4 separate regions of the Homo sapiens genome follow, and regions 1, 2 and 4 are each reported to be linked to region 3. Evidence: microRNA targets listed by miRTarBase, many of them from high-throughput screens and not tested one by one. Region 3 holds a microRNA gene; each other region holds the end of a gene's coding sequence.

What was found. The annotated mature microRNA hsa-miR-142-3p reads UGUAGUGUUUCCUACUUUAUGGA and lies in region 3 at 1,648-1,670, opposite strand. An mRNA with a match to its seed (bases 2 to 7 or 8) in the 3' UTR can be bound and repressed. Matches are read on the target gene's strand: a 7mer-m8 pairs with bases 2 to 8, a 7mer-A1 pairs with bases 2 to 7 and ends in A, and an 8mer does both.
Region 1: the mRNA of RAB39A is a reported target of hsa-miR-142-3p. Seed matches in the 3' UTR shown: 7mer-m8 at 2,609-2,615.
Region 2: miRTarBase lists DTD1 as a target of hsa-miR-142-3p. The part of its 3' UTR that is shown has no 7-base or 8-base seed match.
Region 4: miRTarBase lists SLC7A9 as a target of hsa-miR-142-3p. The part of its 3' UTR that is shown has no 7-base or 8-base seed match.

What each region holds. Positions count from the first base shown.
Region 1 is chr11:107,962,059-107,965,151 of GRCh38, reverse strand. It overlaps RAB39A (RAB39A, member RAS oncogene family), which reads right to left. Exons shown (of 2, transcript NM_017516.3): 2 at 1,670-3,093. The coding sequence ends at 2,780. Among named protein-coding and RNA genes, the nearest start is that of RAB39A, 35 kb to the right of the region's middle.
Region 2 is chr20:18,743,962-18,747,054 of GRCh38, reverse strand. It overlaps DTD1 (D-aminoacyl-tRNA deacylase 1), which reads right to left. Exons shown (of 6, transcript NM_080820.6): 5 at 2,784-2,955. The coding sequence ends at 2,803. Among named protein-coding and RNA genes, the nearest start is that of DTD1-AS1, 47 kb to the right of the region's middle.
Region 3 is chr17:58,329,598-58,332,690 of GRCh38, forward strand. It overlaps MIR142 (microRNA 142), which reads right to left and starts at 1,721; the gene lies at 1,635-1,721. All of the region lies in intron 2 of TSPOAP1-AS1 (TSPOAP1, SUPT4H1 and RNF43 antisense RNA 1), which reads left to right. MIR142HG (MIR142 host genes) reads right to left here and starts at 2,923. Exons shown (of 1, transcript NR_186557.1): 1 at 1,291-2,923. RefSeq lists enhancers at 1-20, 1,811-1,950, 2,751-2,820 and a silencer at 2,931-3,093.
Region 4 is chr19:32,827,941-32,831,033 of GRCh38, reverse strand. SLC7A9 (solute carrier family 7 member 9) reads left to right here. Exons shown (of 13, transcript NM_014270.5): 13 at 350-523. The coding sequence ends at 414. It overlaps TDRD12 (tudor domain containing 12), which reads right to left. Exons shown (of 33, transcript NM_001366102.1): 33 at 1,454-3,093. Among named protein-coding and RNA genes, the nearest start is that of SLC7A9, 40 kb to the left of the region's middle. RefSeq lists an enhancer at 1,478-1,999.

The sequences.
Region 1 (3,093 bases), not on the chromosome of region 3:
CAAATATTAGTCTCTCCTGACATTAGTATTATAAAGGGTGTCCACTGAAATTTAAATCATATTTTATGTTTTAGCTATTTAACTTTAGAAGTAGGCACAGGTGACTGTACTTTCAACTGCTAAATTTTCAGTGTTGGGGTTTATGCCATTTTGGACTGATGGGAAATTGTCATATAATATTGAAAACTGTAACAGTAAAATGGACTACTTCACATTTTGGGGGACAAGTATTTTCTCATTTGGTTAATTACGGTTTGAACTCATGTGAAATTAACCTAATGATATCAAGAAAATGCTGACAATATAAATAGTCATACCTTATATAGTTATAATTTATAATCTCTCCATAAGCACAATTAAAAATACATGAACCCAGAAAATGTACAAGTATTTGAAAATACAATTAAATATTTACTTCAAAGATGCACAAAAAGCACAAACGTGACTTTTGATTGGGTTAAGTCTGCAGGAACGTCCCTCTCTATTATTTCCACTTTGCAGGAACAATAGCTCAGGGTAAAAAAAGCAGAGGAAGCGGGCGCAGGGGCTCATGCCTGTAATTCCAGGACTTTGGGACTCCGAGGCAGAAGGATTGCTTGTGCCCTGGCATATGAGACTTGTGCCCTGGCGTATGAGACCTATACCCTGGGCAACATAGGGAGACCCCTTCTCTATAGAAAATAAAAAATTAGCCAGGCGTGGTGGCGTGCACCTGTGGTCCCAGCTAGCAGAAGGCTAAAGTGGGAGGCTCGCTTGAGACTGGGAGGTCCAGGATGCAGTGAGCTGTGATCATGCCACTGCGCTCCACCCTGGTCAACAGAACAAGACCTCGGCCCCCTCGCCCCCCACCCCCGCCAAAAAAAATAAGCAGAGGATATGCATCAATCAAGAATTCCTACGGGTCCATGAAGACACACATCTTTTTCTACTCCCTCTGCATAGGAACGAAAGGAAAAATCATGAGAAAACAAAATTCTCACCCATTGTAAATATAATAGTATGCCCATGAGCAGCATATCAATCTCAAAATGCTTACTCTATTTACAAAGTGTTTGTTGCATCATTCACTAGATTCTCAAAATAATTTTCCATGAAACACACTAATAAATGGGGTTATTAGCCTAATTTTACAGATAAGAAAAATGGTGCTTAGAGAGGTCAAGTGACTTACTCATGGTTAGATATTGGTAACCAAGTTTTCTGATTTCTTATTAAATATTCTTTCTACTATGCCACTTTGGTTTTCAAACAAATGAAGCAACTAAAGGTTAAGAGTAAAAACCTTATGATTCCAAAAAACTTCACTTGGTACTCTTTTGTGATTAAGAGTAGTTTACAGAACAGAATAGAAATGTACATTATAAAATATTTGACACTATGATCAAAATATCCCTTCCAGGAGAGTTTAATCAATAAGTTAAAAATTAGGAAACTCAAAAGTCATTTTACTGTCTTAATTGATTATTCTATCTTAACTTGTACTGATGAGATTGTAAAATGCAATTTGAAGGCTAAATATATCAAGCATCTAACCAATTTTTCTTCCCCAGAAAAATCTTTTCTGCATTCTTTTCATATTGGAAATTAGGAAATTTGGAAATTTACTTGGACAAAAATGCTATTATTAAAAACATTCCATGTTTACCTATATTAATAATTTTGACAATAGTTCAAAGTAAATTGCATTTACTTTCTTTGAAAATGTCAATACATAAATAAATTTTGTTCTTCTTGTCTAAATACGAACAGTACACCGTAACAGCAAAACATGTGCTGCTGATAGTCCAGGCACGGCAGCTCATGCCTATAATTCCAGCACTTTGGAGGCCGAGGGGGGCGAATTGCTTGAGGCGAGGAGTTGGAGACCAGCCTGGGGAACATTATGAAACCCTGTGTCTACTTATAATACAAAAATTAGCCGGGCATGGTGGCGCACATCTGCAGTTCCAGCTACTCAGGAGGCTGAGGTAAGGTACTGACAATCACCTGAACCCAGGAAGCAGAGGTTGCAGGGAGCCAAGATTGCCCCACTGCACTCCAGCCTGGGTGACAAAACAAGACCCTGTCTCAAAAAAAAAAAGCAACATTTCAAACATTTGGTGAGCGGTCCTCCGTTTTTAATTTTACAAATATTTGCTTAAAGTAGTTTGCTTGGATCCTTAGATATCTTTGTAAAACATAATGCATTTTTAGAAGCAATAAATTAGGGAACAAAAATGGACATAAAACTTATTTTCTTGTGTTGAGGCAAAATTAAGGGAGGACAAACATTTCCAGAGAATGGGGAAAAAACCTGGTACTTTATATAAGGAACTGCTATTTACGTCCTAGTCGATACTTCTGAGATTGTTTACTCTGCAGGTGAACAGTGCATATTTAAATGCATTTTGCTATTCAATATTAATTAACTCAAGAGAATGTAATTCCTGATAAAATCTTTTCAATTGACTATATATGCACAAAAATCCATTTGAACTGTCAAGAAAAATGAGTAATAGTGACATATCTGGACACTAAGGTCAGCGTATGCTAACAAAGTAAGAATGGAGGTAATTTCAAGAAAAAGATTGTCTGCTTTGCTTGGTAATTTAGCAAAATACCCAATCTAGTAGTGTAACAAGTAAGCATCATGCTCTGAATCAAATACCTTATAAAATAGTATTGGTGTGGGTTTGTAACCTTTTTAAATTCTTTCATTGCATCATTCTGCTGTTAATGTTGGTATTTATCCTGAACTGACACCCAATCTGTTCCTGTTAGTTCTTCAGCATGTTTGAAGTCAGCAGAAGCATTCTTTCCTGGGCTTTACTGCTTCCTCAGAAGAATGCACAGTATTTGGAACAAAACCACTTTTAACCCCTTCCCAGCCATCCTGAATACAAATTTCTCCCTTTTTAATAAGTTCATATATGTCTCTCGTCAAGATTGTGAAGGATTCTTCAACATTTGTAGCATCCTTTGCTGAGGTTTCTATATACTTCATTCCACAGTCTGCTGACAGTTTTTCAGCTTCTTCCCTTGTAACTTGACGTTGTGAAGCTAAATCACATTTATGTCCCACTAGCAGAAATACAATCCGAAATGGCTGTACAT
Region 2 (3,093 bases), not on the chromosome of region 3:
TAACAAAAGTGAATTATCATGAAGTTTTGGAGGGGTGGGAGTGGAAGTTTTATGTGACGTCCCTTCCCTTCGAGGCACCCTTCAGTGTCCCATGCATACGTGAGATACATAAGCCAAGGCTGGTCACCACAGTGCTGTTGTCTCCCTGCACAACACTAGCAGGAAAACACAGTGATGAGGGAACAGTTAAGAGGACAACAGGACTCACTGTCCAGTCCCCTCCCCTAAAACTGTCTATGAACCAACAATCCACCCTTCCTGAGCTCTCCATTCTGTTCCTCTCGTCTGTGTATCCATTTGGGAGCTGGTGCCACTGTGCCCAATTACAACTAATGTATCTTTTTTAAATTTTATTTTTAAGAGTCAGGGTCTCACTCTGTCACCCAGGCTGGAGTGCAGTGCTGCAATCATGGCTCACTGCAGCCTCCAACTCCCAAACTCAAGCAATCCTCCCACCTCAGCTTTCTGAGTAGCTAGGATGATAGGCAAGCACCACCATGCTCAGCTAATTTTTTTTTTTAAGAGACGGGGGTCTCACCATGTTGCCCAGGCTGGTCTCAAACTCTTGGGTTCGAGTGATTCTCTCACTTCAACCTCCCAAAGTGCTAGGATTACAGGTGTAAGCCACCACACCTGGCCTAATATATCTCACTTCCTGGTATTGTGGATCCTAAAAGCCATTTCATAGGTACACTTCTGACCCTTGCTCTCTTTCAGAAGAGAAAGAGAAGGCTGAAAACCACCTTCTGGATGTTCTTCTATCATAATTTGGTGTCTCTTGGGTGAATTCTGTCTCCTAACTTGGTTTTAACCACAGTCTGTGAGCTGAAGGCTCCAAATTGTATGTCCGAGACCTGGCTCCCCAGCTCTAAAGCCACAGACTCAGCAGACGACTGGCATCACCATTGGCTGCCAACAGGCACCTCAAACACAACACACCCAAAATAGGTACCGTCAGCAACCCCCATCTTCCTCCCTCATCCTTCTGGATGTCTCCTCTTCCAATCTAATCAGTCACCACGTTGAAATGATTCTATTTCCTTTACATCTTTCAATCCCACTCTTTCCCCTCTGTTCCTACTATAATTTTTTCTCTGGACTTCTGCAATCACCTCCTAATGGGCCTATCTGCTTCCAGCCTCACTCCCCAAAGCTGCTCAAGTGAGTGCTCTTTTTAAACTTTGTATCTGATGATGTCACTTGTACACTTAAAACCTTTCAGAGGTCCCTCCCGCCCCAGGATAAAATCCAAATTCCTCAGGGTTGCATACCAGACCCTATACAATCCAGACCTCCTATTTCTCTAAGTTCAGAGATGCTCCCTGCCCTCCCACTCCACTTGGCACTCAACACTCCCACCCTTCTGCAATTCCTCCATTCCCAAACTCTCCTGTCCTTGCCCCCCAACCTCCAGATGGCATTTGCACTGCTCTTCTCTTGGCTCAGGCAGCTCTCCCCTGCCCTTGCCCCTCATCTGCCTCCCCACTGCCACCTGTCCTTCCAGATCTGGTCCCAGGCCTCTGAGGGGCCTCTCCTGACCTCCCATCTCCACCCCACACCTGTTCACACTCCTGCCACACGCACCGTGCTGTAGTATAACTGTTCCTATGCTTCTCCCTGAGCCTGTGACCTCCCCATGACAGGTCCTGGGTCCCTCAAATCTGCACCCAGTATTTGGTCCAGTGCTTGGCAAAATAAACAGGTTCCCTGGTGGGAGGAACTAGGCACAGTGCCATCAGATGGCCGCATCACATTTTCAAGGCCTCTGATGTTCAGGCAGGGAGGTGGACTCCGTGCTACAGTGAGCCACAATAAGAATAAAATGCCATTTTAGGAAAAGTAAACTCACAGTGCCACACGGGGCACTGTGAAGGATTTCAGAACACGGGGCAGGTGGCAATGAAAGTAGGCTGCTGAGATGGCAGTGCCCTTTGCTAGAGTGGCTAAGAGCAGGAAGGGAGATGCAGGAGCGCAAGTGGACTCTGCATCTGCATCTGGATTCTGTATCGGTGAGTGAGTGTTCTGCACAGGCAATCACAGCAGCAGCTGTGGACTGGCACAGGCAGCCAGAGAAGGTGGCACAAACAGGTTCCACCCCCAGGTGGGCACCCCAGGCCTGTGGTATGCCACCCTCCTGCATCTCAATGAATAAAATACAATCTTATTTGCTAACTGATATGGTTTGGCTGTGTCCCCACCCAAATCTCATCTTGAATTGTAGCTCCCATAATTCCCACGTAGGAACACACACGTGGAAATTATGGGAACTACAATTCAAGATGAGGGGCCTGGTGGGAGGTAACTGAATCATGGGGGCAGTTTCCCCCATACTGTTCTCTTGGTAGTGAACAAGTCTCACAAGAGCTGATGGTTTTATAAGGGGAAACCCCTTTCACTTGTTTTTTGTTTTTTTTTTTTGAGATGGAGTCTTGCTCTGTCACCAGGCTGGAGTGCTTGACCCTTATACTCTCTTGCCTGCCGCCATGTAAGAAATGCCTTTTGCCTTCAACCATGATTGTGAGGCCTCCCCAGCCACGTGGAACTGCGAGTCCATTAAACTTCTTTATCTTTATAAATTACTCAGTCTCAGGTATGTCTTTATCAGCAGCGTGAAAACGGACTAACACACTAACTTTTGTCTCCATCCTGGAAGGCAGCAGATTTAAGGAAGCTATGGATGAACGCTGTGAAATGAATGAATTCAGCCTCAGCAGCTATTCCCTCCTATTCATTGCTGCTTCCCCAAAATGTGGGAAGATGAAGCCAAGCAGGGAAACTCCTACCTGAATTCTGCCTCCTGAGCTACGGCTCCCGTTCAGAGGACACGTCGCCCTCAGCCCCGCTGCTGGCACTGCGGTCTTCTTTTCGGGGAGTGTTTCTTTCCTTGCTTGATTCAGAAGGTCCCTTAGCTCTGGTCTTTTCTTTCCTCTGCTGCTGTTTTTCGAGCTTTGACAGCTGATTAAATAAAAATAAAAAAGAATATTTTACAAACACAAACACATGCCTGTGTATCCCACACACCAGTGACTTCCCAGGTGGGAACCATTGAAAAGTTTTTTTCTGATAACCTGGCAGAGCACAGTGGTTCAGATA
Region 3 (3,093 bases):
CGGTGATACTGAACCCTAGAGCCCCTGACTGTGGGCTCCACCCAGGCAAGAGCCAATGGAACTGGAGGTAGGGGGTGCATGGGGAGGAGTGGACATCTTCACTTCCCTAAAGCAGTGTGTAGGTCAACACGCACGCCACTGCATGATGTGTTGCTGTTTAGGTCAGAGTATATATGCATGCCATTATGCGCATGCGTGTGTATAGTATGCATCTATAGAATAGACATTATCTATTTCTGTATATGTGAAGGGGCCATTGTGTGTATATATGTGTGTGCTATTATGTGTCTATGAGTCACATAATAAAACGTAACAAAAACACATTGGGTGTATCTGTATGTATGTTTCTGTGTCATTGCATCTATGTTTGTTTGCCACTGTGTCTATGTGTGTGCTGTTATGTGCATGGGAGGCTATCATTGCATGAGTTTATAAATTACAACACATCATGATATATATAGATATGGATGCTACTATATGGCACAATGTAGTAATTGATTACACAATATATGACATGCTCATATCGTCATGTAAATATGCATAATGACATGGTTTGATTTATATATATATATCACCATGTATCTATGTATTCTATATTTATCATGATATATGAACATGTCTCTATCTATGTATGTGTATGGAGCCACCGTGTTTATTATGCAAATGTCACTGTATGTGTGTGCTCTTCTATGTGTAAGACACGCCCTATGTTTCTATCATTGCATGTGTGTACTACTGAATATGTATGTGCCCTGGGTGTGTGTAATCCCTGTGTGTGTCATGCCAGTCATGTCACATGTGTCTGTGTGTGTGTTACTGGCACACTGAATGGGGCCTCTGTGTGTAAATGCATTTGCATCTCAGTGTGTGCTTTGTATATGAGTGTCTGTGCCCTTGTCTAAGATGCTGTGTATGTGCCACAGTGGATTTTGCCCAATTTTTATATGACCTAGGACCCCCTAGACTTTCTTAGATTAAAACTGGATGTAGGCAGCTTTCAGTTTGGGTATGTAGGGGGGCAGGATAGGGCCAGAGCTAGGGTAGAAGGTGAGAGGATGCCTTACATCCCTGCCCCTTTCTGCAGATGGCCCAGGCCCTTCTCTCCTCCGGCTGTGGCCTGGCCAGGCCCAGAGCCCTCTTCTGATCTCATAGGCAGGGCCAAACCCGTATCTTCTGGAGGAGCGACAGAGGTTCTCCCTCCCAGCCCTTCTGTGCGCCCATACTGTCCATGTGCCTGCCGCCCGCATTCAGCTCCCCACCCCAGCAACAGAGTCTCAGACAAAAGAGAAGCACAGTCCAGTCTTTATTAGCATTGGGTCCCTGGTCCCACCACCCATTCCCCTCCACGTACCATCCCTTCCCACCCCTTCCTCGTCCTTGACGCTGCGGCTGCATCAGGGTTCCACATGTCCAGCCCTCCCCGCCCCCAAAGACTGCAGGGCAGCAGAGGAGCTGCTGTGGCCTTTCCCCAGCTGTCCGGAACCAGGAAGGGCAGGAAAGCCATGGAGGCCTTTCAGGCATCTGGGCAGGGTAGGGAGGGGCCGTAAGGTGCTCACCTGTCACACGAGGTCCCCGAGCGCCGAGGAAGATGGTGGCGGGCAGCGGGCGGCAGCAGTGGCGTGATCTCCGAAGCCCACAGTACACTCATCCATAAAGTAGGAAACACTACACCCTCCAGTGCTGTTAGTAGTGCTTTCTACTTTATGGGTGACTGCACTGTCTGTCTGTCCGTCGGCGTGTACTCTTCAGGCTGCCCAGGCCTCCTGACTCCTGCTCCAAGAGCCCCCCAGCCCTCCTTGTGGCTTCCTAAGATCCCCCCAACCCTGCCAGGGCCCCCCGAGGGCCCGCCCTGGGCCTTGTGGGCGGTGACTCAGCATGGCGCCAGACTTGCCTCCTCTACCTCCCTCCCCCACTTCCTCTTCAGTTCCCTCTTCCCTTCCCCCTAAAGGCTCCACCCCATCCCCCCAGTTTCAGAGACACTCAGGTAGAGACTAGGGCCTCTGGAGGCCTCACCTTCAGTTCTGTGAACCCCTGGCTGGCCGCTTCCAGCCACGCTAGCCACCCTCCAGCGTCCAAATGAGGCAGCCACAGCTCCCCTGCCAAGGTCTTGGTCTCCAGTCCACCCCAACCGTGAGGTCCTGACTGCCCAGAGCCTCAGTCCCCACCCTTCAGCCTCCCCACCAGCCCAAGATCCTGACCCCCCAGGGCCTAAGTCCCCAGCCTCCCCAACAGCCCAGGGTCCTGACCCCCCAGGGCCTCAGGCCCTGGCCTCCCCACCAGCCCAAGGTCTTGAACACACCAGGGCCTCAATTCCCAGCCTCCCCACCAGCTCAAGGTCCTGACTCCCCCAGAGCCTCAGTCCCAGCCTCCATAGCAGCCCAAGGTCCTGACCCCCCAGGGCCTCAGTCCCCAGCCACTCCACCAGCCCCAAAGTCCTGACTCCCCAGAGCCTTGATTCTCGGCCTCCCCACCAGCCCAAAGTCCTGACTCCCTCACTGCCCTGCTGTTCCCCTGGCAGGAGCCCAAGGCTATCCCAACAAAAATGGTGGCCATGTTGGGCGGAGGAAGAGGCTGGCGCCCCTTGAGACACTGGTCCCACTTCTCAGCCTCTGCGTACCCTCTGCCATCCCCGCCTTACTCTCCAGCCCTCCTCCTTGGACACCTCTTTCCCCGCCTGGGGTCCCGGAGCCATTTTACCTTCCTTCACTAGAGAGGGTTTCAAGGCGCTTTGCCCTGAGCTTCCCGCATGGGGCTTGCACCCAAGCTCCTCGACACCCCCAACGCGCCTCCACCCAGACCAGCAGCCCAAGCCCCTAGAGGCCCCGAGCTGAGGAGCCCCAGTTGGGGCAGCAGTGAAGGTCCGGATCCTTACCTGAGGCTGCAGGGCGGAGGAGAGCTCGCCCTGTGCTCCAGGCTCCGAAGTGGGGTTCCCTTCAGGGAGGGCAGGGCTTATAACCCCGAGGCCACGTGGGCCAGATCTCAGGGCGCCCAACGGTCTCAGAGCGCGCCCCGCCCCCGCCCGCAGGGGATGAGCGCCCTCCCTCCCTCCCTCCCTGGGGAGGACAGACTGACAGGAAACAGAAGGGGGTGGGC
Region 4 (3,093 bases), not on the chromosome of region 3:
TTAACTCTGGCTGCGGCAGCCTGTAACAGCCAGTTAAGATTTATTAAGTGAATGTGATTAAAAGCCTGCCTGTTTCTCCTGTTCAGCTCATCTGAACTGGAAAGTGCAGTCGTCCCTCCGGACACTCCTAGGAGGTTTTTATTTCTATTCCTGCAATTCTGGGAGAAGACAGAAGCCAGGAAAGTGTGAAATCCAACCAGAAGGCAGGAAAGCTGGCCATCCTGAGCACAGGGTCTAGGTGACGCATCACCAAAGACTGAAAACAATGTCACCCTCACCCACAACAACTCCAGTGAAACTTTCGAATTTCAGTCTAACTAACTGTACTCATTTTTGACTCTTATTTCAGAGCCGATTACCATGCACCTTCAGATGCTAATGGAAGTGGTCCCACCGGAGGAAGACCCTGAGTAACAAGCTCCGTCTCTTGTAGCCAAGTCAGCTGAATTTATTTTCTTAAGCAATATTTGTGGTTATTTCTTCCTTTTTTTCTTACGAATAAAATATACTCAGATGTTTAAAATATTGTTATTTTTAGATATTCTTAGTTCTCTGAGTGGGGGTTCTAGAAAGGGGAAGTGGCAAGTGTTTGTTTGCTAAAGTTGTTGTCAGGTGAGATGTCACCTAACAAACAAGAGGCAGATGCTTAGGGAAGGGCTGAATAAAAGCCTCCATTACAGTGGCAGCTATTTAACAAGGGGCACATCACACTTAAATGAAAGGTGTTCTTTAAACTCAATGTCAATAAGGTCTCTTATATAAAATGGATGACATTTTTGCTTTGATTGATTGATTGATTGCTATAGATTTTAAAACAACAGTAAATTACTGGCCAGGTGTGGTGGCTCACGCCTATAATCTCAGCACTTTGGGAGGCCAAGGCGGATAGATCGCTTGAGTCCAGGAGTTCAAGACCAGCCTGGGCAACATGGCAAAATCATGTATCTAATCTATAAAAAACATAAAAAAATTAGCCAGGCATCGTGTTGCACACCTGTAGCCCCAGCTACTCAAGAGGCTGAGGTGGGAGGATCACCTGAGCCTGGAGTCCAGGGTGTAGTGAGCCATCATCATGCCACTGCACTCCAGCCTGGATGACAGAGACCCCAACTCAAAAAGTAAATAAATATACAAAAATATTAAAGTACAAATGTTTCTCACCCACTCTCCCCTACCCTAAAAGTAAAGTACTGGCGCCCTGTGCTGAACCTGTGATGTGCGTGCCATGTATCTATCTATCTGCCAGGATGAATGGCAAGAGCTGAGCCTCCATCCAGAACCCTCCACAGCCGGTGTGCTCATCACGAGGGTCGCCTGCATTGCCAGTCAGCATCGCTGGCTCCCTAGCAGCCTTCACGGGCGTTTTAGTCAAACCAGAAAGTGTGGTGAGTAAAGTTTTATTCTGTGTTTGGCATTCAGGGAAAGTACTGTTTAAAAAATGTAAAAAGCAACATTTCTGTGAAAACAGTGAAATTTTATTGATGATACACTGCGGAAGACATCCATACCACAACTAAGCATGAGCGATTTTAGAAGCATAGAGACAAAGGCACTTTCACCTTGCATTTTAGATATTTGACCAAAACTTGAAATCAGACATATTCATAGCAGTACAGAAAACCAATGACTAATTGTTCACATAATCAGCATCCTATATCCTACAAAATGTTAGCTTCAGATATTAGAACATTTGAATGTCTGAAAAAAGAAACAGATCTAAGCATGCAGTTGTCCTCCCTGCATTTTCACGAGTGCACAGGAAACACATTGTCACTAGCTATTATCATTTGCTGTGCTGTATGAAAGAGACTCGGCGCACCTGGGTGTAAACAGCAGGCAGCTGGTGCGCACGGGGCGCCACTGGACGGCGGCCTGGTCTCTGCCCCCAGAGCTCCACCAACAGGGCAGCAGCCACATGCAGAGAAACAGACACTGATATGGGTGTTAGAAGAGCTCCACAGTCAAAACCTTCACCAGCAAAAACACCAGAACTTTCTACTTCCCAAGAGCCTGCCCAATTTAGCTACAAAAAAGGAAAATCACCATCTTCCTTCATGGGCTGATTTGATACCTGCCAGTCACCCTGCGAAGGCCATAGCAGTGACCTGGGCACACTCCCGGCAGCTGTCCTGGCTGCACAGCGTGTCCTCCCAGGGGAGGCCAGGGCTCTGAGCCCCCATCAGAGCCACTGGGCAGAAAAACTGCCCAACCCAGCAGCACTCGGCGGGCGCTCCCTGAGACAAGGCCAGGCCACACAATGAGGGGATGTCTCATTTTACAGATGAGAAAACTGAGCCAGAGTGTGATCCAGACCTGCTCACAGGACAGCTTGATGACAAAGTTCACCTCTAGTTCAAGCGGTGGCTTCTGCTGGGACATACATAAGCCTGGGCATTGGCGCTTTCTGATACAAAAAAATAATAAAGATCTTGGGGCCGTCACACAACACTCATGTTCTATCCAAATTCTTTTCCATTCCGAGGCAAAGCTGATAAACAAGACACAGAGTGCACAGGACTTTTAATTTCCCAATAGCTCACCTTTCTCGCTTTTTCAGTCAACAAAGAAACCCAAAGCACAAAAGCCAGCCTCTGGGTGTGGCCATGACTACATACACTCCTCCCCTAAACCTGGTGACCCCCCCCAGTGCTGCAGCCACAATGCAGATGGGGTGGCGAATGTCTGCAGGGCTCACGACATGTAGGCATTCAAAGATCACCTCCAGGCACCCCACAGGCCCTTGTGAATTTCCACTAAAAAGCAACCTTTGTGCCATTTGCTCAGGACTCTGCAGGTCCAAGGGATTGTTTAGAACCAGCAGCTTCACCCCGGAAAGGCCTGGGTCTTACTGAGCAATCCAATTTCTATCCCTGGACTATCTCTTCATCAGAAGTCAACTTACTCTGAGGAGCTATCACTATCCAAGAATGCTAACACTATCAATTCACATAGATGGTTATGTTAAATCCCACTATCTCATGGTTGAAAGGGCTGGTTCAACAGTTGCTGAGTCTAAGTGTGTACATTAGAAACCTCAATTTATATGTGTAAGATCAGGTTTGTAGCAATGTAGCAAAGGTCTAGGTGAAAAAA